Linked DNA regions of Homo sapiens: all the other regions are linked to region 1. Evidence: fine-mapped expression QTL. A gene starts in region 1. Each other region holds a variant in brackets. All regions are shown on one strand. Distances are between the middles of the regions. Region 1 holds the start of GNG7 (G protein subunit gamma 7). Region 2 holds the start of LOC124904789. Region 3 overlaps GNG7 (G protein subunit gamma 7).

What was found.
Region 2: its variant is fine-mapped to the expression of GNG7 in cerebellar hemisphere (GTEx, PIP above 0.99). The same link has a PIP of 0.9 or more in cerebellum.
Region 3: its variant is fine-mapped to the expression of GNG7 in whole blood (INTERVAL, PIP above 0.99).

What each region holds. Positions count from the first base shown.
Region 1 is chr19:2,699,130-2,707,304 of GRCh38, reverse strand. It overlaps GNG7 (G protein subunit gamma 7), which reads left to right and starts at 4,611. Exons shown (of 5, transcript NM_052847.3): 1 at 4,611-4,659. RefSeq lists a silencer at 4,326-4,715.
Region 2 is chr19:2,509,424-2,517,598 of GRCh38, reverse strand. It overlaps GNG7 (G protein subunit gamma 7), which reads left to right. Exons shown (of 5, transcript NM_052847.3): 5 at 2,452-6,380. The coding sequence ends at 2,577. It overlaps LOC124904789, which reads left to right and starts at 4,028. Exons shown (of 3, transcript XM_047439801.1): 1 at 4,028-4,074; 2 at 4,508-4,658; 3 at 5,265-5,759. The coding sequence starts at 4,028. The coding sequence ends at 5,759. RefSeq lists enhancers at 5,139-5,218, 5,332-5,842, 5,899-6,038 and a silencer at 5,569-5,748. The variant T/G (reference allele first, on the strand shown) is at 3,224.
Region 3 is chr19:2,673,228-2,681,402 of GRCh38, reverse strand. All of the region lies in intron 1 of GNG7 (G protein subunit gamma 7), which reads left to right. Among named protein-coding and RNA genes, the nearest start is that of GNG7, 25 kb to the left of the region's middle. RefSeq lists a silencer at 3,173-3,321. The variant C/A (reference allele first, on the strand shown) is at 4,782.

The sequences.
Region 1 (8,175 bases):
GTGAAGAGATTGGTGATGGTCAGAGGTTAGGGATGGGGTTTGGGGATGGGAGGAAGGTGGGTGTGGCTCTTAGAAGGCACCAGGAGGGATCCTCGCAGGGATGGAAACATCCTCTGCCTTTTTTTGTTTGTTTGTTTCTTTCTTTCTTTTGAGAAGGAGTTTTGCTCTTGTTGCCTAGGCTGCAGTACAATGATGCGATCTCGGCTCACTGCAATCTCCACCTCCCAGGTTTAGGTGATTCTCCTGCCTCAGCCTCCTGAGTAGCTGGGATTACAGGCATGCGCCACCACGCCTGGCTAATTTTGTATTTTTAGTAGAGACGGGGTTTCTCCATGTTGGTCAGGCTGGTCTCGATCTCCTGACCTTGTGATCCGCCCGCCTCGGCCTCCCAAAGTGCTGGGATTACAGGCGTGAGCCACCGCGCCTGGCCAACATCCTCTATCTTAAGCTTAACAATGTTAATATCCCGTTCATGACATTTCACTGCAGTTTTGCAAGAGTTTGCCATTGGGCGAAGCTGGGCAGAGGGTACTGGCCCTCCTTCTATGCTATGTCTTACAACTGCGTATGAATCCACAGTGATCTCAATATTTACAATTTTAATTTAATTTTTAATGTTTCTTTTTTTGACCAGGGATACTGCTAAATTTGAAAAAGGGGAATTGGGCCAGGTGAGGTGGCTTCAAGCCTGTAATCCCAATGGGTGCCTGCAGTCCCAGCTACTCAGGAGGCCGAGACAGGAGGATCGCTGGAGCCCAGGAGTTGGAGGCTGCAGTGAGCAATGATCGAGCCACTGCCCTCAACCCTGGATGAGAGAGTGAGACCCTGTCTCAGATAAAAGGAAAGAAAGAAAGAAAGAAAATAAACAAGGCAGAGGCGGGAGGATCACTTGAGCCCAGGAGTTCGAGACCAGCCTGGGCAACATAGCAAGATCCCATCTCTAAAAAAAAAAAATGTAAAAATTAGCTAGGCATGGTGGCATGCATCTGTGGTCCCAGCTTCTCAGGAGGCTGAGGTGGGAGGATTACTTGAGCCTGGGAGATCAAGGCTGCAGTGAGCTGTGATAGAATCACTGCACTCCAGCCCGGGCGACAGAGCAAGACCCTGTGTCCAAACAACATCATCATCAACAACAACAAAAACCCAAAAAACAAAAGAAAGGGGCCGGGCGCAATGGCTCATGCCTGTAATCCCAGCACTTTGGGAGGCCGAGGTTGGTGGATCACCTGAGGTCAGTAGTTTGAGACCAGGCTGGCCAACATGGTGAAACTCCGTCTCTATTAAAAATACAAAAGTTAGCTGGACATGATGGTGGGCGCCTGTAAGCCCAGCTACTCGGGAGGCTAAGGCAGGAGAATAGCTTGAACCTGGGAGATGGAGTTTACAGTGAGCCGAGATCACATCACTGTACTTTAGCCTTGACGACAAGAGTGAGACTCCATCTCAAAACAAACAAACAAAAAACAAATAAACAACAAACAAACAAAAAACCAAAGGGAAGTTGATGGGAAAATATATGTGAAAATATGTCTATTGGGACATGCCACCTTTTCCATTTGTCTTAGGCTCCAACATGGTTTCACATGACACTTTTTCAAAATTGTTACAAATACTTGTATCTATGTATGGGGTACATGTGGTATTTGTTATATGCATAAAATATATAATGATCATGTTTGGGTATTTGGGGTGTTCATAACTTAGACTATTTCTCATTTCTATATGTTGGGAACAATTCAAGGACTCTCTTCTAGCTTTTTTTTTTTTTTGAGACAGAACTTCGCTCTTGTTGCCCAGGCTGGAGTGCAATGGCACGACCTCGGCTCACCACAACCTCTGCCTCCTGGGTTCAAGCCATTCTCCTGCCTCAGCCTCCCGAGTAGCTGGGATTACAGGCATGTGCCACCACACCCGGCTAATTTTGTATTTTCAGTAGAGACGGGGTTTCTCCATGTTGGTCAGGCTGGTCTCAAACTCCTGACCTCAGGTGATCCACCCGCCTTGGCCTCCCAAAGTGCTGGGATTACAGGCGTGAGCCACTGTGTCCGGGTGGGCGCCTGTAATCCCAGCACTTTGGGAGGCCGAGATGGGCAGATCACGAGGTCCGGAGATCGAGCCCATTCTGGCTAACACGGTGAAACCCCGTCTGTACTAAAAAATAAGCTTGGCGTGGTGGGACGTTCCTGTAGTCCCAGCTACTCAGGAGGCTGAGGCAGGAGAATCGCTTGAACCCGGGAGGCGGAGGTTGTGGTGAGCTGACGTCACGTCATTGCATGCCAGCCTGGGCAACAAGAGCGAAATTCCATCTCACACACACAAAAAAGAAAATAATAATAATAATAATAATTAAATAGAGATGAAGCCTCGCTATGTTGCCCAAGCTGGTCTCGAACTCCTGCCCTCAAGGGATTCTCCTACCTTGGCTTCCCAAAGTGTTTGGATTAGAGGCGTAAGCCACCATTATTCTAACTATTTTGAAATGTACAATACATTGTTGCTAACTACAGTCACCCTATTCTGCTATCAAACATTAGAATTTATTCTAATACTATATTTGATAGCAGAATACATCCTATTCTGCTATCAAACATTAGAATGTATTCCTTCTGTCTAACTGAATGTTTGTACTCATAACTCACCTCTTTTCATTTCCCCCCCACTCAACCTACACAACTTTCCAGCCTCTGGTATTGATCATTCTACTCTCTACCTCCATGAGATCAACTCTCTGGTTCCCACGTATCAGTGACAACATGCCCTATTTGTCTTCCTGTGTCTGGCTTATTTCACTTTTTCACTTAATATAATGACCTCCAGTCCCATCCATTTTGCTGCAAATGACAGGGTTTTATTCTTTGTTATGGCCGAATCATATTGCATTGTGTATTTAACACTTTTTTTTTTTTTTTTTGAGACAGAGTCTCACTCTATCGCCCAGGCTGGAGTGCAGTGGTGTGATCAAAGCTCACTGCAGCCTCAACCTCCTAAGCTCAAGCGATCCTCCTGCTTTCGCCTCCGAAGTAGCTGGGACTACTGGTGTGCGCCGCCAGGCCTGGCTAATATTTTAATTTTTTTGTAGAGTTGCGGTCTCAGTATGTTGCCAGGCTGGTCTTGAACTCCTGGGCTCAAGCGATCCTCCCGCTTCAGCCTCCCAAAGTGCTGGGAATACAGTCGTGAGCCACCGTGCCCTTCCCAAGCTCTATCTAGACAGTCATTCCTCTTGGGGGATGCCAGCTGGGGAGAGCCTGGAGGAGGGCAAGCAGGGAGATGGAGGTTTCTCTGTGCCCTGCAGGGCAGGCCACTGGAGTCCAGAGGATGAGCAGGGAGGTTCTTGCAGGGATGACAGGAACCCTGGGGAAGTTTATCTTGGATTTTGGCCAGCAGCTCCAATCCCAGGGCTCAGGTGGGGCGGCAAGGACACACAGTGTCAGCGCCTGATGAAATCCCTGAGGTCACAGAATATGGTGGCTCCATCTTCCTTCCAGGGCTGTGTACTGCTTTTGGAGACATACAAAGTGTTTTCCAATATTCCCAAGGGAGCTTGTGGAAAATGAAGATTCCAGGCCTGTAATCCAAGCATTTTGGGAGGCAGAGGCAGGAGAATCACTTGAGCCCAGGAGTTCAAGACCAGTTTGGGCAACATAGCAAGACCCCATCTCTAACAAAAAAAAATTAGCCAGGGCCAGGCACGGTGGCTCACGCCTGTAATCCCAGCACTATGGGAGGCCAAGAAAGGTGGATCACCTGAGGTCAGGAGTTGGAGACCAGCCTGGCCAAAACGGTGAAACCCTGTCTCTACTAATAATACAAAAATTAGCTGGATGTGGTGGTGCGTGCCTGTGGCCCCAGCTACCCGGAAGGCTGAGGTGGAAGGACTGCTTGAGCCTGGGACTTCAAAGCTGCAGTGAGCTATGACTGCACCACTGCAGTCCAGCCACGGCAATTGAGTGATACCCTGTCTCAAAAACAAAACGAAAACTAAACAAAACACAGATTTCAGGGTCCAGTTCCCTATAGGATTCTGGTTCATTCCATCTGTGTTGGGGCTCAGGAATTTGTGGATCCAGGGCCATGAGTTAGGAAACTGAGAAATCTTGGAAATGATGAGACAGGCTTGGGCAAATGACCTTAGGTTTCACCTTTCTGAGACCCAGTTTCCACCTCTGTAAAATGTGGATAGTAATCTCGCCTTCTGGCCTTATGCGGAGGGTCCCACGAGAGGGAGCCTATAAAGTCTTCAAGAAAGCGGTGCAGCAGTTATGATCACTGACATTCTTCCCCAGCAAATGAGCCCCCGGAGCTGGCATGCAGGATTCGAACCAGCTCACCTAGCGCGGGATTCGAACTCGCGAAACTACTCGCGCCTTCCTGACGTCACGAAGTCACCCTGGAAAGCCGCTCTTCGCCCCGCCCCCGGCCCCGCCCGCGCCCGGAGCCCCGCCCCACTCTCCTGGGCGCAGCCTACCCCGCTGCCTGCCCCGCGCCCCGCCCCCGCTCCGGCCTCCCGCAGCCGGGGCTCGCGATTGGCCTTGCCGGGACGCCAGGGCCCGCCCCCCGAGTGTCGGCCCCGCCCCCGCAGAGGGGAGCGAGCGCTCGCGGGCCGGGGCGGAGGGTTCGGCTGCGCGGCGGGGCTGAGGCGGCCGCGGGGCCCGAGCGCAGGTAAGGGCGCCCGCGAACCGGGCCAGGGGAAGTGAGGGCGCGGCCGGCGTCCCGGAGAGGGGACTGGGACAGCTCGGATTCGGCTGCGGACCGAGTTGGGGGTCGGAGTCGGCTGAGGAGGGGGGCTGGGTCTGGGGACCCGGGCTGCAACTGGAGGCTGGGGTTGGAATTGGGGACGGGGCTGCGCTTAGGGGGTCGAAGTTAGCTGGGGAGGGGCTGGGGTTGGGGATTGGGACTGCACTTGGGGCTCAGGGCTAGCTGGGGAGGGGGCGGGAGTTGCAGGTCGAGGTTAGCTGGGGACGGGGCAGGGGGTGCAGATCGAGGTTAGCTGGGGAAGGATTGGGTCTGGGCATTGGGACTCCACTTAGAAATCAGGGCCAGCTGGGGAGGAGGCTGGAGTTGCAGGTCCAGGTTAGCTGGGGAGGGGGCTGGAGGTGGGATTGGAGGTCTGAGTTAGCTGAGGAGGGGGCTGGGGGTGAGACTGGAGGTCTGAGTTATCTGGGGAGGGGACTGGAGTTGCAGGTCGAGGTTAGCTGGGGAGGGAGCTTGGAGCGGGATTGGAGGTCTGAGTTGGCTGGGGAGGGGTCTGGAATTGCAGGTCCAGGTTAGCTAGGAAGGGGCTGGTGGTGGAATTGGAGGTCTTGAGTTTGCTGGGGAGGGGGCTAGAGTCGCAGGTCGAGGTTAGCTGCCGAGGGGGCTTGGAGTGGGATTGGAGGTCCAAGCTAGCTGGGGAGGGGGCTGGAATTGTAGGTCGAGGTTAGCTGGGGAGGGGGCTGGAAGTGGAATTGGAAATCTGAGTTAGCTGGGGAGGACGCTGGGGATGGTGTTGGGGGTTGAGGTTAATTGGAGCGGGGAACAGGGGTTGAGTCAAGGGTGCAGCTTCTTTGAAGAGGGAGCTGGGAGTGGGGTTGAGGTTTGCAGGGAGCTGGAGAGGGGGCTGGGGATGGAGTTTGAAGTGGGGTTCATTGGAGAGGGGGCTGCAGAGGGAATTAGATGTTGAGGTTGTCTGGGGAGAGGACTGAGGAATGGGGTTGGTGAAGATGGGGGGGTGTGATTGACGGCCCAGGGGTTAGGGTTAGCTGAAAAGGGGCAGAAGGACAAAGCTGGGGTGAGCCAGGGAGTGGCTGGAGCATACAGGTGGGGGTCAGGCTTGTTCCAGAAAGGGTCTGGGGGCTATCAGGGGAAATGGGGAGCTTGTGAGTGTGTGGGGTGGAAGGGGGTTCAGGGAGAAGGAAGTTGGGGTGAGTTAGTGAGAAGGGAGGTGGGGGTAAGGTCCCAGGCTGGAGACACCTGGGGGCAGGTGTTTTGCTAGACATTGACTAATCAGGAGGAAAACGGGGTGTGGGGAGGTGTCTCAGGTAGGATCCAGTTAAAAGGAATTTGGAGAGGACTCACCCCTCTACTTTTGGGGGAGATGTTAATTGTTTGCTCTAGAACTGGGCACGGGGCAGAACCCCCTGGGGAACAGTGAGTTGAAGGAGACGGGAGTTCGGAATACTTTTTGAGGTTTATTTCTAGGATATAGGGTGCCAAGGAGAACGCTTCAGGAAGGAGAAAGGCTCCTGTCGGTGACTGAATTTTTCAGGAACTAAAGTGGGAGTTTTTGGGACGGTGCTATTGAGCGACGTGGGTGGCACTTTATTTTTCCTGGGGAGCGGGGGTTGCTAGGGGTTGGGAGGTGGGCGGTGGAAGACAGGCTTGATGAACAGAGGCAGCGGATCCCCAGCTAAGCGTCTTCACACGGTTGCTAGGTGTCAGCGAGGCAAATGCCAAGTTCACAAACTTGTTCCCGTCGTGGGATGCTGCGATCTTGCCTTGATGGAGTGTCGGGGGCCTCTGGGAGGTGCGCCTGTGTGTGTTCCGACCCAGCCTCTCGCTGCGGATTTGGCTGTATCATCTTTTGGAGGTGTTGTTTACTCCCCTGCAAAGCGGGAATAATAAAAACAGTAGCATGTGCCTCTCAGGGTCGAATTACGGGATGTATGCATGGACTATTTCCTAGCATATAGTGAGGGTACCTGAAGCATGGAGAATAATGGACTCAATCCAGTTTTTTTCTTTGGTGGGTTTGGAGATGGAGGAGTGGGATGACTGGGTTGTCACAGAGGAGAGGAAAGGAAGTGACTGGAACTTGACTCTAGTCCTGCAACCTTAGGAGCACACATCAGGGTCACCCCCAGAAGCTTTAAAAAATAACCTGCATGGCTGGTTGTGGTGGCTCATGCCTGTAATCCCCGCGCTTTGGGAGGCCGAGGCGGGTGGATCACCTGAGGTCAGGAGTTTGAGACCAGCCTGGCCAATATAGCGAAAACCTGTCTCTACTAAAAATATCAAAAATTAGCTGGGCATAGTGGCGTTTGCCTGTAATCCCAGCTACTTGGGAGGCTGAAGCAGGAGAATCGCTTGAACCCAGGAGGTGGAGGTTGCAGTGAGCCAAGATCACGCCATTGCACTCCAGCCTGGGCAACAGAGAGAGACTCTGCCTCAAAAAAATAAAGGAAAAAAAAAAAAAGGACTGCAACAACAACAAAAATATGTCTTATTATTATTGTTATTATTATTATTATGTTGAGACAGAGTCTCAAATATGGAGCCTGTTTCCATATTATTAAAAGTGAGTAAAAAACTGAAAAGAAAGAAGACTTTGCCCACACCTGGTGGCAGGAGAGTCTCAAAGCTCGTTAAGTAACAGATGCACCTGTTCAAGAGAAGGCTGCCTGGGTCATTCTGATTAGGGGCACCCCGTAAGGAACCACATCGAGCTGTGATTATACGCTTGAAATTTTGAGTTTACAACTTCAGTTCATGGGGTGCGTCTGGGTCTCTCTATCCCAGCGCTGCGGACATTTGGGATCTGATTGTCCTCTGGGGTGGGGCCTTCTGGGCACTGCAGGGTGCCGAGCAGCATCCCTGACCTCCACCCACTCCACACCAGGAGCTCCCCGCATTGTGACAACCACAGATGTCTCCGGATATCACCCAGCGTCCTGTAGGGACAGAGATACTCCAGTGTGGAACCCTTGTTATAGACAAAACTGATTTATTTTCTCCTTTAACGACCTCATCTCCCCTTTGATGTGCAGGAAGTGGGGTCATTCAGAATTGAGGATTGCTTTTAAGTCATTTAGTGCTGTCATTCGGAGAGGGGAGAAGTAAGGTCTCACTGCTTTTAGAAAACATTAGAAATGCCTACTTATGGCTGGGTGCGGTGGCTCACGCCTGTAATCTCAGCACTTTGGGAGGCCGAAGTGGGTGGATCACTTGAGGTCAGGAATTCAAGACCATCCTGGCCAACATGGTGAAACCCCATCTGTACTAAAAATACAAAAACTAACTGGGCGTGGTAGCACACGCCTGTAATCCCAGCTACTTGGGGGGCTGAGGCAGGAGAATCACCTGAACCCAGGAGGCAGAGGTTGCAGTGAGCTGAGATTGCACCACTGCACTCCAGCCTGGGCCACAGAGTGAGACTCTGTCTCAAAAAAAAAAAAAAAAAAAGGCTACTCCTTTCTAGGT
Region 2 (8,175 bases), 190 kb after region 1:
GAGGTCAGGAGATTGAGACCAGCCTGGCCAACATGGTGAAACCCCGTCTCTACTAAAAATACAAAAATTACCCTGGCGTGGTGGCGTGCGCCTGGAGTCCCAGCCACTTGGGAGGCTGAGGTGGGAGAATTGCTTGGACCCAGGGGGCGGAGGTTGCAGTGAGCCGAGATCACGCCACTGCACTCCAGCCTGGCTGACAGAGTGAGACTCTGTCTCAAAAAAATAAATAAATAATAAAAATGAAAATTATGGCCAGGTGTAGTGGCTCACTCCCGTAGTCCCAGCTACTCAGGTACTCCCAGCTGAGGCGGGAGAATCACTTGAGCCCAGGAGGTGGAGGCTGCATTGAGCTATGATAGCACCACTGCATTCCAGCCTGGGGGACAGAGCGAGACCCTGTCTCAAAAACAGATAACAAAGGCACCTCCGTGAAGCGACACTGCGATCCTTCTCGGATCATCCCCTCACCTCTGCCACATCTAATCCTCCCCCTGTGATCGCCCTCTCGCCTTCCAGGAAAGAAAGCAAGGAGAGAAAGGTCGCTGAGTCCCACAGAGACACAGTTACCGGTTACGGGATGAGATCCAGGGCCAGATGGACGTGTCCCCGTGTAGCCTGACCCAGGACACCGGACACCCCAGCCCCAGCCCTGCTGGGGTGAGCTAAGCGGGGAGTGGCAGCGGCACCCCCAAAGGCATGGCCAGGAGAGACGGGCGTGTAGCCTGGGGCGGGCTGGCAGCAGCCCGGGGCAGGGGGTCCCTCCTGTGACCGGAAGCATCAGCCCCTCAGAGGGTTGGAGTCATCAGGGGGTTCAGGCTGCAAGAGAAACATGGAGACGGGCTTATCTCGTCCTCACCGGGCCCAGCCCCCTGGCCGGGTGTCACCGTGAAACCTCCCTCAAGCTCATCAAATGTGCAGGCAGCGTTTTCCTATCAGGACCTTCCTTCCTTGGGGTGAGAATGAGGTCTTGGACTCCGAAAACGGGGTCCATCTGTCCCTGACCCTTTGTGTTCAAAATCTGGCAACGCTTGCTGAAGGAAGCTCAGCCTTTTCTTTTTTAAAAAAATATTTTTTAGGCCAGGTGCCGTGGCTCACGCCTGTAATCCCAGCACTTTGGGAGGCTAAGGCAGGTGGATCACTTGAAGTTAGGAGTTTGAGACCAGCCTGGCCAACATGCTGAAACCCGTCTCTACTAAAAATACAAAAATTAGCTGGGCGTGGTGGCAGGCACCTGTAGTCCCAGCTACTCAGGAGGCTGAGGCAGGAGAATTGCTTGAACCCGGGGAGCAAGAGATTGCAGTGATCACACCACTGCATTTTTCTTTTTTTAATTTTGGGAAAAGACACACATAAATTTATTTATTTGTTTATTTATCTTAATTGAGACAGGGTCTTGCTCCATCCCCCAGGCTGGAGTGCAATGGTGTAATCTTGACTCACTGCAGCCTTAACCTCCCAGGCTCAAGCAATCCTCCAGCCTCAGCCCCCCAGTTAGCTGGGACTACAGATGCCCACATCACTATGCCTGGCTCATTTTTGTATTTTTTGTAGAGATAGGGCCTCACTGTGTTGCCTAGGCTGGTCTCAAACTCCTGGGCTCAAGTGATCCTCCCGCCTCCGCCTCCCAACATGTTGGGATTACAGGTGTGAGCCACCGCACCTGGCCAAGACACATATAAAGTTTACCACTAGTGATATTTAATATAGTCACAATGCTGTGCATCCAATCACGTTTATTCCAGGACATTCCATCACCCCAAAAGGAAACCCTGTCCCCCATCAGCCATCACTCCCCAGCACCGGCACCCACGCATCCCCTTCCTGTCTCTGTGGATAGGCCTGTCCTGGACATTTCATAGAAATGGGATCACACGGCCGGGCGCAGTGGCTCACACCTGTAATCCCAGCACTGTGGGAGGCTGAGGCAGGCATATCGCGAGGTCAGGAGTTCGAGACCAGCCTGATCAACATGGTGAAACCCTGTCTCTACTAAAAATACAAAAATTAGCTGGGTGTGGTGGTGCATGAAGGTAATCCCAGCTACTCGGGAGGCTGAGGCAGGAGAATCACTTGAACCCGCGAGGTGGAGGTTGCAGTGAGCCGAGATCGTGCCACTGCACTAGAGCCTGGGCGACAAATAGAGTCTCTGTCTCAAAAAAAAAAAAGAAAGAAATGGGATCACACACTGTGTGGCCTTCTGTGTCTGGCATCTCTCACTGAGCATGAGGCCCTTGAGATGCATCCACGTTGTGGCCTATGTCAGAGCCTCACTCCTTTTCATGGCTGAGTAATATTCCAGCGTGTGGACGGGCCGCACTGTTTGCCCACGCCCCCATCAATGGGCTCCTGAGCTGTTTCCGCCTGTGGCTCTTGGGAATGGTGCTGCTGTGAACCCGGGTGTGCCAGCCTCTTCTTATGTCTCCTCTGTCTCCTCCTTGTGCTCAAACACAGGTCTCCAAAGCGGCGTCTGACCTCATGAGCTACTGTGAGCAACATGCCCGGAACGACCCCCTGCTGGTCGGAGTCCCTGCCTCGGAGAACCCCTTTAAGGACAAGAAACCTTGTATTATTTTATAACTGTGTTCTCATATGTTCTCTCTCTCTCTCTCTCTTTCTCTCTCTCTCTCTCTGTCTCTGTCTCTGTCTCAGGCAGGGCATCATTCAGTAATTAGCTCAAACAAAACATCTCAAGTCCCCAAAACCTTTAATTCCAAAAGAAATCCCCCCTCTCCCCGCCAAAAAAGGCGTTCCCACCGCCCGGATGGGGTAGAATGGACCTTGTAGGTGGAGATGAATTTTCAGGTCCGACCCCATGGCCCTCTCAGTTTGGGCCAAAAGGGATGGAGGCTTTACGGCCACTTCCCGTTCGGAATAACTGAAATCCCCCAGCGATGGGGTAACAATTTTTTAAAACTCTCGATTGCCGTTTCAATTGTGGACCGGCGCCGAGGGGGAAAGGGAGGTGACTTCGCCCGGTGGCAATAGTTCCGGGAGAATTGGCCATTGGTAAAAAGACTTCATAGGGTCACTGGAATGCTTTGTGTTGTTTTTAAGTAGAGGTAAAATTGAGATGGGGGGCGGGAGGTGACATCATGAAGTTTTTTGGAAATATCTCTTTATTTAAAAAATTGTTACTCCATACGGCTAAACTCGGATTGTGATGGTTGAACCCGTCGCTAAACTGCACGATCCTGCAATGAATGCACGATGGAGTGTGGGGGTC[T/G]GGAGGGGGCTTCGTCTATGAAAAGTTGCCAAGTGTGACTCCCCTGCATGATGTTAGCCATGGGTCCTTTCTGCAGGGTCCCCTCTGTGCCAGAAATGGGTTTTCGGGACTTGCCCCAGGGAAGCCGTCACCGGCCCGGCCCATCATGTTTTTGGATTTTTTTTTTTTTTCTTTTTTTGAGATGGAGTTTCATTCTTGTTACCCAGGCTGGAGTGCAGCTGCATGATTTCAGCTCACCGCAACCTCTGCCTCCCCGGTTCAAGCGATTCTCCTGCCTCAGCCTCCCGAGTAGCTGAGACTACAGGCGTGTGCCACTACGCCCGGCTAATTGTTGTATTTTTAGTAGAGACGGGGTTTCACCGTATTGGCCAGGCCGCTCTCAAACTCCTGACCTCGGGATCCGCCCACCTCGGCCTCCCAAAGTGCTGGGATTACAGGCATGAGCCACCGCGCCCAGTGTGTTTTAAGCATGAGGCATCCGCGTGGCTGGGAGAGGCTTTGACCATCCTTGGCTCTTCCAGGTTGTCCTACCCTCTGGCATCCACCATAGACGTTTTTCAAACAGAAAATGCAGGCTGGGGAGCCGCGGCAGGGCGGGTGGGGCTACCCTGTGCTGCTGTGTGTACAAAATTGTTCCATGATCTTGGAGTGACTCTGAAGGACTCTGGGAGGTGAGACGTTGTCCCGGAGATCAAAACGTCCGCTCAAAACGTTACCCTGTCGCTCGAACCCGATCTTTTTGCTTTTCCACCCCCGTGCAACCCAGGACGGCTGTCTGAGGCCGGGAGATGCCTTAGACGCAGGATGGGCCACTCCTCCCAGCGGCAAGTGGAAATCGAAGATGTCATGGGGTCGGGGGGAGGCTTCTGAAAGATGACTGCGTCCTCCTCTGCGGCACGGACGGGAGCAGGTGCAGCCACATCTTCCAGGGCCTGCCGGCATCACCTGCGGCCACACCTGAGATGGACCCCACGCAGCCCTGATCGCAGGAGGCCTGGCCGCCCCGACCCCCTCCACGGGGCTGGCCTAGAAGCAAGTAGTAGAATAAAACTAGCCTAGTCCTGTCCCTCCGGCCCCAGTGGAGACAGGCGTCTAAGAACCCGTGCCGAGAGGGTTCCTGGACGGCCGCCCAGGTCCTCCGTGCAGGCCCGTGAGGCGGGGATCCCTGCTTGGCTCACTTCCTGAGCTGGTGACTGCCAGGGTTCCCACCTCGCCAAGGCTAGAGGGCTCCGGGTGTGTGTGCAGGTGTCGGGGGAGTGACCTCCACTCCTCAACCTCGGGCAGCTCCCACAGGCCACAGCCGGGCTCCCCACCCCCGGCACCCAGCTCTCTACGGCAGGTCCGGGAGGGCTGGGGCTTCGGGGAGCCCTACCCGCCAAACCTGCTGTTGGCCCGGGAGAGCCCCAGAGGCTCCCGGAGACTGCAGCCTCCTGTGGTTGGGCTGGGAGCCGGCAGGGTTTGGGGTGTGGGCGTCCCCACCACGCATAGCAGGAATGGCAGGAAGGGACAAAAGCCTGTTCCAGAGACCCTGGGAGGACCCCAGGCAGGGAGAGCCCGCCTGCCTCCACCCTTTCCAACAAGCCATCTTGGTAACTGGGAACAAACACACCCCACCCCGTTTTTCCTTAAAAGAGGCCTTAATCCCCGAGCCCCCGCTGCCAGGGCAGAGGGAGGAGGGGGCACAGCTGTGCCAAGCCCGGCCCCACTGGTGTGTCCTCACAATGTGACCCCAGAAATGCCAGCAGGGAACGGAGGCTGCTGCAGAGACGCAGCCCCAGGCAGCCGGGGCTCCTAGGCTGGTGCAGATGGTGGGGTTAAACGGGCTGAGCGTTCCAGGTAAACTGAGGCTCGGGGAGGGGAAGGACAGGCTGGCCTCTCCTTCACTGTCCACAGGGCCTTGGGTTCCCTGAGCTGTCCAGACCCCACCATCTCCCGGACCCCAGGGAGGTGGCCATTGCCAGAAGCCTGTGGGTTTCTTTCTAGCTTGGGGGATTAAAAAAAAAATTCTCCACTTTTTTTTTTCTTGAGTAGACTTCAGTGACCACACTGTGGAAAATACCTTTGCAGACGTGGCACCCGAGTGCACACACCGACCGCCACATGTGCTTTTCTGCCGGGAATCCCTGGGGTGAACGCATGTTTTATGGGCGTTTCCAGGAGCGCGCGTGCACCTCCAGACGGGGAGCTGGCGGGCGGGGGTGGCAGCAGCAGCTCTAGCCTTGGGGGGACAAGCCTCTCTCAGCTACGCCAGGGGAAAAGAGAGTTAAGGACACTCACCCCCACCCACGCACACACACAAGGCAGCGTCGGGTGGGAGAGAGAAGGCCGTTTCTCCTTCTGTAGCCTGGGTCTCCCACGGGCCTTCCCCGCTGCTGAGCGAGACACCAGTAGCCAGGTGAAGGGCCACAGCGGGCCAGGCCCCGACCCTGTTGTGACCCACCTGGGCACCTTCCCGGACCAGCTCCGCCTCCCCTGCCCTCCTCTCTCCAGGAAGGAGCCAGAACCCTCACCCCTCTCCCACCCTCCCCAGGGGTAACCCCAGGCCAAGCACAGATAGCTCAGCTGCGACCTCTGGCCTCTGGGGACATAAACGGGGCGGCTGGGCCAGGGCGGAAGGTGCTCCTGTTTCCCTCCTTCTGCGTGGTCCCTTTGACGGGCCGGCCACCGTGTCCGAGGCGCAACGCTAGGCCTCCAGGCCACGCATCCATCTCCAAGTTAACAGCCCGTCCTGCCCAAGTTCTGGGGCAGGTAGGAGAGGGCCGTCACACACCTGTCCGCCCGTGAGTGACCCGGGGGGGCTTCCGGGTGGAGGTGGAGCCACCACGCCCTTCCTCAAGGGGTCACTTATTAAAAAGTCCACGGCCTGAGGCCAGGCCCTCTGCACAGAAGCCATATGCCGGCCAGCCGCGCCTCCTCCTCTGTCCACGGAACCGCTGCCCATCTAACCTTCGTAAAGACCTGTCTCCTGTTTCCAGCCGCCGCCTGTGGTTCTAGCAGGTTCTATGCCATCTGCATTGGGATGTCTGGTTGTTTTTATTTCTGACTTTTTTAAAATTCCAGGTGTGCCGCACCCACTTTCTCGCAGTGTTTTAATATTGTGTGGAGTTGTCGATACCACGTGAATTCATACACAATAAAAAGCCTCACTCTCCCTTTTCTCCTGGCTCTGGGCTGTTCCTTCTCTCTCTGGCCCGGGCCTTGCTGGGGAGGGAGCTCCTAGCATGCAAGCAGATGCCCCAGGCTTGGCTCCAGGCATGGGGACCCGCGGCCCCACACCATCCCGTCCACCCTCCCTTCACCGGCCCAGGGAAGAGGTAACAGGAGGGGACCCCTGGAGGCAGCACCACAAACCAGGGACGTTCAGGCCCAGTGGGCTTTCGGATTTGTACTTAGAACATCTAGGAGGGGCCGGGCGCGGTGGCTCAGGCCTGGAATCCCAGCACTTTGGAAGCCCGAGGCGGGCGGGTCACCTGAGGTCAGGAGTTCGAGACCAGCCTGGTCAACACGGTGAAACCACGTCTCTGCTAAAACTATAAAAATTAGCTGGCCGTGATGGCAAGTGATTATAATCCCAGCTCCTCAAGAGGATGAGGCAGGAGAATTGCTTGAACCCAAGAGGCAAAGGCTGCAGTGAACCAAGATCACGCCACTGCACTCCAGCCTGGGCAACAGATCAAGACTCCATCTCAAAAAAAAAAAAAAGGCCGGGCGCGGTGGCTCACACCTGCAATCCCAGCACTTTGGAAGGCTGAGGAGGGCGGATCATGAGGTCAGGTGTTCGAGACCAGCCTGGCCAACATGGTGAAACCTTGTCTCTACTAAAAATACAAAAAAAAAAATTAGCTGGGCGTGGTGGTGGGCTCCTGTAGTCCCAGCTACTCGGGAGGCTGAGGCGGGAGAATCACTTGAACCCAGGAGGCGGAGGTTGCAGTGAGCCGAGATTGCGCCACTGCACTCCAGCCTGGGCAACAGAGTGAGACTGTGTCTCAAAAAAAAAGAAAAGAAAAGAAAATCTAGGAGGAAGGCTGGGCTCAATGGTTCACACCTGTAATCCCAGCACTTTGGGAGGCTGAGGTGGGCGGATCATCTGAGGTCAGGAGTTCAACACCAGCCTGGGCAACACAGTGAAACCCTGTCTCTACTAAAAATATAAAAATTAGCTGAGTATGGTGGCGGGTGCCTGTAATCCCAGCTGCTTGGGAGGCTGAGGCAGGAGAGTTGCTTGAACCCAGAAGGCAGAGGTTGCAGTGAGCCGAGATCGCACCACTGCACTCTAGCCTGGGAAACAAGAGTGAGACTCTGTCTCAAAACAAAACAAAACAAAGAAAGATTAAGAAGAGCTTTTGGGCTCTATGCTGGCAGCAACACAGGAGGATACAAGCTGTCACATGCTGCCAAAGGACCTCTACGCGGGTACAACCTTCCCTGAAAGTGTTTTGGCGGCTGGGCGCAGTGGCTCGTGACAGCTATCCCAGCACTTTGGGAGGCTGAGGCAGGTGGATCACCTGATGTCAGGAGCTTGAGACCAGCCTGGCCAACATGGTGAAAGCCCGTCTCTATTAAAAATACAAAAATTAGCCGGGAGTGATGGCGGGCACCTGTAATCCCAGCTACTCAGGAGGTTGAGGCAGGAGAATCGCTTGAACCTGGGAGGTGGAGGTTGCAGTGAGCCGAGATCGCACCACTGCACTCCAGCCTGGGCAACAAGAGCAAGACCCCGTCTCAGAAATAAATAAATTAATTAATTAATTAAATAAAATGTAAAATGTAGGAGTTGTGTAACCATCACCTCTGTGTAGTTCCAGAATACTGTCATCACCCCAAAGACATCCCATCCCCATCAGCAGTCACTCTCCACCCCTCCCCAGCCGCAGGCCACCGTGAATCCCTTTACTGTCTCGGTGGATTAGCCTGTCCTTCGCAGTTCACATAAATGGGATCATGTATTGTGT
Region 3 (8,175 bases), 26 kb after region 1:
AGCCATCCTGACTAATATGGTGAAACCCCATCTCTACTAAAAGGACAAAAAATTAGCCGGGCGTGGTGGCGGGCGCCTGTAGTCCCAGCTACTCGGGAGGCTGAGGCAGGAGAATCGCTTGAACCTGGGAGGTGGAGGTTGCAGTGAGCCGAGATCGTGCCACTGCATTCCAGCCTGGGCAACAGAGCAAGACTCCGTCTCAAAAACAATAAAATAAAAAAAGTTGGTTGCTACAAAAAAAATAAAAATAAAAATTAGCCAGGCCTGCTGGGGCACACCTGTAGTCCCAGCTACTTGGGAGGGTTACACAGGAGGATCAAAGAAACAAAAACTGTCGGTTTCACTTCAAAACATGCTCCGCGTCAGTCCTCAGGGAAATGCAAATCAGAGCCATGGTGAGATACCACTTCACGCCCAGTAAGATGGCTAGAATTAAAAAACCAGAACAACAAACAATCACAAGGGCTCACGGGGAGGTAGGACATGGGGACCCTCATGCGAGCTCGGGAGACGAAGGTTGCAGTGAGCTGTGATCACACCACCGCACTCCAGCCTGAGCAACAGAGCAAGACCCTGTCTCAAAAAAGAAACGAATGAAGTCGGGAGTTCAAGACCAGCCTGACCAACATGGAGAAACCCCGCCTCTACTAAAATACAAAATTAGCCAGGCGTGGTGATGCATGCCTGTAATCCTAGCTACTTAGGAGGCTGAGGCAGGAGAATCTCTTGAACCCAGGAGGCGGAGGTTGCAGTGGGCTGAGATCTCACCATTGCATTCCAGCCTGGGCAACAAGAGGGAAACTCCATCTCAAAAAAAAAAAAAAAAAAAAATTGTAAATTTTGTGTTAAGTGTATTTTACTAAAAAACCCACTGTTAGTCTATGTGGTCACTTTTCAGAGCTTTTAATTTTTAATTTTAAAATGTTTTAATTTTTTAAAAAATAGAGACAGGTGGCTGGGCAAGGTGGCTCATGCCTGTAATCCCAGCACTTTGGGAGACCGAGGCGGGTGGATCACCTGAGGTCAGGAGTTTGAGACCAGCCTGGCCAAGATGGTGAAACCACATCTCTACTAAAAATACTAAAATTGGCCAGGCATGGTGGCGGGTGCCTGTTATCCCAGTTACTCGGGGAGGCTAAGGCAGAGAGAATCACTTGAACCTGGGAGGTGGAGGTTGTGGTGAGCCGAGATCGCACAACTGCACTCCAGCCTGGGCAACAGAGCGAGACTCTGTCTCAAAAAAAAAAAAAAAAAAAAAGAGACAAGGTCTTACTATGATGCCCAGGCTGCTCGAACTCCTGGGCTTAAGCGATCCTCCCTCCTCGGTCTCCCAAGATGCTGGGGTTACAGGCGTGAGCTGCCGTGCCTGGCTGACAGTCTTAGACTGTAAGAAGACGGTCCTGTTTTTCTCCCTGTGGGTTTCTCATCTTTCTCCACTGTGGGTCAAGCCTAATAGAGCTGTGGACACTGACTGGTTCTGTTTTAAGGGATTCTGGCATTGGATTTTGAGTTTCTTCACATCTGGGACTACTGAGCAGGTCATGTCTTTGATTTAGGTCTTGCCAAGCCCAGGTAATTTAGGAAGGTGCTACCTGGTGCCTGGAGTTAATACAATGAGTAAGGTGAAGATGCAGATGGGAATGCAAGGGGTTGAAAATTCTGTCCTGCTTTGAGGAAGTGGGACCTGGGGGAATAGGATATGTAAAAAGTGAAAGGTGGCGAATCATGGAGGGTTCTGGAATCTTCTGGAACCTTCTAGAAACTCCCAGAGCCTTCTAGAGTTTTCTGGAATGTAGGCATGGTGAGGCATTGGATTTAGAATGCCTACTTAGCCACCATGTGACTTTCTTTCTGTGTGAATTTTGAAGAAAACATGGAACCTTTCTGTTTCCTTGTGTGTCAGACAGGATAGGAATCACTCCCTAGGGTCATTGAAAAGATTGGGATGGACTACGAGGCTGTGACCTGGATGGGTGGTGGTCCTGGTTATCACTGTTATTGCTGGAATCACTGCTAATATTATTCAATATATTATGTATAAATATTAGTATTGGCTGGGTGTGGTGGCTCACACCTGTAATTCCAGCACTTTGGGAGGCTTAGGTGGGAGGATTGCTTGAGCCCTGGAGTTCGAGACCAGCCTGAGCAACATAGTGAGACTCTATCTCTACAAAATTTATTAAAAATTAGCCAGATATGGTGGTGCACACCTGTGGTCCCAGCTGCTTGGGAGGCTGAGGCAGGAGGATTGCTTGGAAGCCTAGGAAGTTGAGGCTGCAGTGAGCTATGATTGCACCACTGCATTCCAGCCTGGGCAACAGCAAGATCCCGTCTCAAAAAATTAGCATTGTACTATATGTTACTTATGTTGTTATTTTTCCTCACGGACACCATGGGCGTGGACCAAATTCAGAAAACGATGAAGTCTGTTCTTGGGGAGATGGGATAGGAGCTGTAGCTTGGCTGGGCTGGCTTAAGAATCAGGCTTGTCTGGAAATCGGAGGGACCGTCATGAGAAGCTGTTGGTTTCCGATCGTCGAAGGCTGCATGACGGAGGATGGGTTGGCTGGTGCAAAGGTCAGGGAAGGGATTCTGTTGGCATGGGGTGTAGACCTGGCGTTGAAGGCCACTCCTAGCTCTGAGAGCTGGGACCCCTTGAGAGAAGTAGTTACCAGGCTGGGGCTTGGCAGAATCAGGGTTGGAGGTGATGATCTTGGAGGCGCTGCCTGCTGCCCAGGACCCTCCGAGACTGGACACCTTATCTGATTCTTCTCCCTGTGTTGTGGATGGGGAAACTGAAACCGTATGCATTTATTACCCCATCCCAGGATTTGGTTCCTCCACCCATAATAGGTGACTGAGTTCAAAGAGCCAAGTGTGACCTGTGTACAGTGGGTGTGACCCACCTGCCCACTGTGTGGCAACCATGTCATCCCTGGAAGTTTGCATTCCGTGGCTTTTCCTCTGTTACTTTTTTGACTCCGTGCCCAAGCCCAGCAGCTTCTGAATCCAAAGCCTTGCTATGCCACAATACCTACTATATTTCAGAAAATTCTGGAAGTTTCCAGAAGCTTCTGGAAGATTCCAGAACATTCTACAAGTCACCTTTCACTTCTTGTATATCTCGCTCCCCCCAGGTTTTACTTCCTCAATGTAGCATGTGCCCTGAGATGGAAGTGACCACAGTCACACCCACTCTCTTGTTTCTTGCTGTGACAGTGTTGGCGTCGGCCACCGCCACCTCCTCTTCCACTCAGGGCCACAGTGGAAGGTCTGGATGCCTGGTGTTCTGTTTTCCTAAGGCTGCTGAACCCTAACTAACATCCACACAGAGGCCACTGGTGGTCAGCACAGGTGGCAGGGTTAGAAAGGTTGGGACTGGCTTTGTCCTTTGAGTCAGAGGGACAGTCACACTCATGTTTGTGTGACCATATGCATGTGGCTATGGTCAGTCCTATAGATTATGGCAGCGGTTATCACTCTCTGTCACTGTGGACCTTGGGGCCAGATCGTTCTCTGAGGTGGGGCCATCCTGGGCACTGTAGGGTGCTGAGCAGCGTCCCTGGCCTCCACCCACTCTATGCCAGGGACACCCCGAGTTGTGACAACCAAAGATGTCCCCAGACATTGCCCAGTGCCCCATGGGGGGCAGAATCACCCCCAGGTGAGACCCCCGGGGGTTAGGGGATTCCACAGATCCCCAAGAAACTCTGTGTCTCATGATCCTCTGTCCTCCTGAGGTTCCAGGAGGCTGCACACATTGTAATCCACACCCTGAGTGGGGAGGGAGAGAGGAGGAGAATCGCAGGAGCTGGGGCCCCCCTTGGTTTCTGCCATCCACCCCATCGGGAATTTTTTCTAGTGTCTGGTGTCAACAGGGAGCAGATACAATATTTTTCCAAATAATTAAGGCAGAGTCTCTCCCCCTTGGCATTCAGGGCTGGGTCGTTCTCTGGGGTGGGGTTGTCCTGGCCACTGCAAGGTTCTGATCAGCATCCCTGGCCTCCACCCACTCCACGCCAGGAGCATCCCTGAGTCATAACAGTCACAAATGCCCCCAGACACCACCTAGCATCCCCTGGGGACCAGAAGGACCCCTGGTTGAGAACCACGGTTGTATAGAAAGGAATTGAAGCAAAAAAAAAAAAATGGAATTCTCTGCTCCCCTGTGGCATCCTGTTGATGGATTAGATTCAGCCTCCATGCTCCAACACCGAGCTCAGCGTCTCCTGGAAGGCCCTGTCTCCAGAGGACGTTCCCAGATCCTGCTCCCTGGAAGAATTCTTGCGAGCATATATGCAAGTGTAATTAAGCGGCCGTTTTTCCTCTGTGGTGACACAGATTTGGGTCTGCAGTAAAGATATGGAGTCCCTTTAGAGCTGAGAGCCGGATCACGGCCAGGAGAATGCCTTGCTTTGAGATTCTCTGGGAATCGGGAGTCCTGCCTGGGTGGAAATCAGCCCTGGACAGGGAGGGAATGTGCAGATCGGAGCAAGTGGCTTGTTTCTTCCTGGCAACCCCAGAAGCTGTCTGAACAGCTTCTCTCTGCCACACATCTCTTTGAGTCTTGCACCCGCCCGGCTGAAAATTACACCCAACTCCTCCAGCCGGGTCTAGGAAGTGGTGCAAGCTCCTGAACCTCCATCTGCAGAATAACTAACTAGCTGTTCCTGAAAACCACCAAAGAGGCTGGGCGCGATGCCTCACACCTGTAATCCCAGGACTATGGGAGGCCGAGGCGGGAGGATCACTTGAATCTGGGAGTTTGACACCAGCTTGGG[C/A]AACATGGTGAAACCCCATCTCTACAGAAAGCGAAAACAAAAATTAGGCAAGCATGATGGTGCGCGCCTGTGGTCCCAGTTCCTTGGGAGGCTGAGGTGGGAGGATCGCTTGAGCCAGGCGGTGGAGGTTGCAGTGAGCTGAGACTGTGCCACTGCACTCTAGCCTGGGCGGCAGAGATATATCGCTGAGGGTTTGACGGACACTTCTAGATGGAAATCAATGTCTATCTGGTGCCTTGGGGGCTGTGCATGTTCACGAGGAGGGTGTCTGAACATGCCAGGATGTGGGTGCCTAGGGGAGGGTCTCTGTGGGGTGAAGTTTGGATATTTGAGGGCGCCCATGGAAAATGACTTCAACCTGCATGGCTCAAAACCACAGAAATGGATTTTCTGGCAGTTCTAGAAGCCAGAAGTCTGAGACGAAGGTGTGGGCAGGGCCGTTCCCGGCCCAGAAGCTCCCGGGGAGGATCCTTCCTGCCTCTTCCAGCATCTGGCAAGTGGCCGGCGGTTCTTGGCGCCCCTGGGCTGGTGACATCGCTCCAGTCTCTGCCTCCATCCTCACACGGCCCCCTTCCCTGTGTGGGTCTGTGTCCAAATTTCCCTCGTCTTATAAGGACATCAGTTATTGGATTTAGGGCTCATCTTAATCCAGCACAACCACATCTTAATAATAAGTCCATCTGCAGAAACCCTGTTTCCAAATAAGGTCCCATTCTGAGGCATCTGGCTCAACAATATTTTCTTCCAAATAATTAACTTTGAGTCTCTTCCCCCTGGTGCTGTGGACATTGGGGCTGGATCATTCTCTGGGGAGGGGCCATCCTGGGCACTGCAGGGTGCTGAGCAGTGTCCCTGGCCTCCACCCACTCCATACCAGGAGCTCCCCCCAATCGTGAAAACCACAGATGTCCTCAGACCTCCCCCGCCCCATTGAGACCCCCAAGTGTCGGGAATATCTTTTCTGTTTTCATATGTTTTTCTTTGTATCTTATAGGATCCTGGGGAAATATTTCCCCCAGCAGTCCCTCATAGGAGCCAATTTAGGTCATCGCTGTCCTTCAGAACTGTCCTCTGCAGAGGGGCCGCGACATCTGATATTCTCTACTCTTTAACCAGCCTGGTTTGCTAAATAACGCTCCCTGCTTCTTTACCGTCAAGCGACCTCTCCTGCTCGGCACTGCTGGCATTTCCTGGTCTTCGTGGTTGCAGATTTTTGGTGGGTCACACCGGGCTTGGTCACGAAGCTGTCCCTTCCTGGTGTCCCCTTGAGCCTGGAGGTTCCATAAAGCCAGATTCCCATTCCCGAGCCCGTGCACTTGCTGCTGTTCCTGGCTGGTTCCAGGGTTTGACCAGTCGTCCACCGTTGCAGAGAGAGACCTGTTAGTTCTTCAGGGGCACGACAGGAATTTCTGGCGTGCATCCGTCTCCGAGAACGTGATCTGTTTGGGTTCATTTATGAACACGTCCAACTGTTAGGAGTGCTTGGCGCCGTTGCGGATTTGTTTGGAGAAGCTAAAGCAGTCTGTAACCCTGTCGCGTTTTCCATGTGTTAAAACATTACCAGTCCCGAGTGTGTGAAAATCTGGATTTTTATCTATTCTAGTCTCAGCCAGAGGGGGAGGCGTTATGACAGTTCCGTTTTAGGAAAAGTAGTACGGTATACATTACGAAAGAGCATTGTTTTCTAACCGAGTCCGTTTCTGGTGACGTACAATGGCACAGTTTTCAAACTTGACTATGTAGAAAAGCTGCCCGATGGAGTCGGCGCTGTCGAGGGTGGAAATGCGAGTTACGACCATCACATAAGGAGATCTCTGTTTTCTTCAACACTCCCTGACTTTGCATCTCAGCAGGTGTCCTCTGTGTTTTAAAACAGTCACCTTGCAGGCCAGACGCAGTAGCTCACGCCTGTAATCCCAGCACTGTGGGAGGCCAAGGCGGGTGGATCACCTGAGGTCAGGAGTTCGAGACCAGCCTGGCCAACATGGTAAAAACTCGTCTCTACTAAAAATGCAAAAATTAGCCGGGCATGGTTGTGGGCGCCTGTAATCCCAGCTACTTGGGAGGTTGAGGCAGGAGGATCGCTTGAGCCCAGGAGGTGGAGGTTGCAGCGAGCTGAGATTGCACCACTGCACTCCAGCCTAGGCAACGGAACAAGACTCTGTCTCAAAAAAAAACAAAACAAAAACAAAAAACAAAAACACCAGTCACCTTTGGAGACCTTGCCCTTTTCCCAGCAGTGTGACGATTCTGATTCCCTTCAAGAGTGGATTGTACTGCTTTTGTATATTTCAAACATACAATTGTGTGTATTTCCATTATATTTCAGATTCTTTTTTCTTGTTTGTTTTGTTTTTGAGATGGAGTCTCACTCTGTTGCTCAGGCTAGAGTGCAGTGGGGTGATCTCGGCTCACCGCAACCTCTGGCTCCCAGGTTCAGGCAATTCTTTTGCCTCAGCCTCTGGAGTAGCTGGGATTATAGGCAAGGTGCCACTACACCTGGCTAGTTTTTATATTTTTAGTGGAGATGGGGTTTCACCACGTTGGCCAGGCTGGTCTCAAACTCCTGACCTTGGGTGATCCGCCCACCTTGGCCTCCCAAAGTGCTGGGATTACAGGCGTGAGCCACGGTCCCTGGCCTCAGATTTCTTTTAGGGTAGTTTTGAATTTTGGAAACAGCCTATATTAGTTAGCTAATTCTGTGTAACAAATTATCACAAATGTATCCTAAGAAAACTCTGAAATATATTGGAAATATACACAATTGTATGTTTAAAATATACAAAAGCAGTACAAGGCCCTCTCTCTAAAAAAAGAAAGAAAGAAATTTTCTAAAAAGACCAGTATCCATACATTATCACGAACTCAACTCCACACTTTATTTACATTTTATTTTTCTTTCTTTCTTTCTTTCTTTTTTTTTTTTTTTAGATGGAGTCTCGCTCTTTCACCCAGGCTGGAGTGCCAGTGGTGTGATCTTGGCTCACTGCAACCTCCACCTCCTGGGTTCAAATGATCCTCCTGCCTCAGCCTCCCAAGTAGCTGGGATTTCAGGTGCCTGCCACCCTGCACGGCTAATTTTTGTATTTTTAATAGAGGCAGGGGTTCACCATGTTGGCCAGGCTGGTCTCGAATTCCTGACCTCAGGTGAGCCGCCCGCCTCGGCCTCCCAAAGTGCTGGGATTACAGGCGTGAGCCACGGCGCCCGGTCTTTATTTCCATTTTCTTGTTTTTTCCAGGAACCCACATGCCATTGACTCCCGACATCTCCTTACACTCTGCTGGGACACTTCTCAGACTCATTGGTTTTGATGACCTGCTGGGTTTTTTTTTGTTTTGTTTTGTTTTGTTTTGTTTTTTTTTTGAGATGGAATCTCGCTCTGTCACCCAGGCT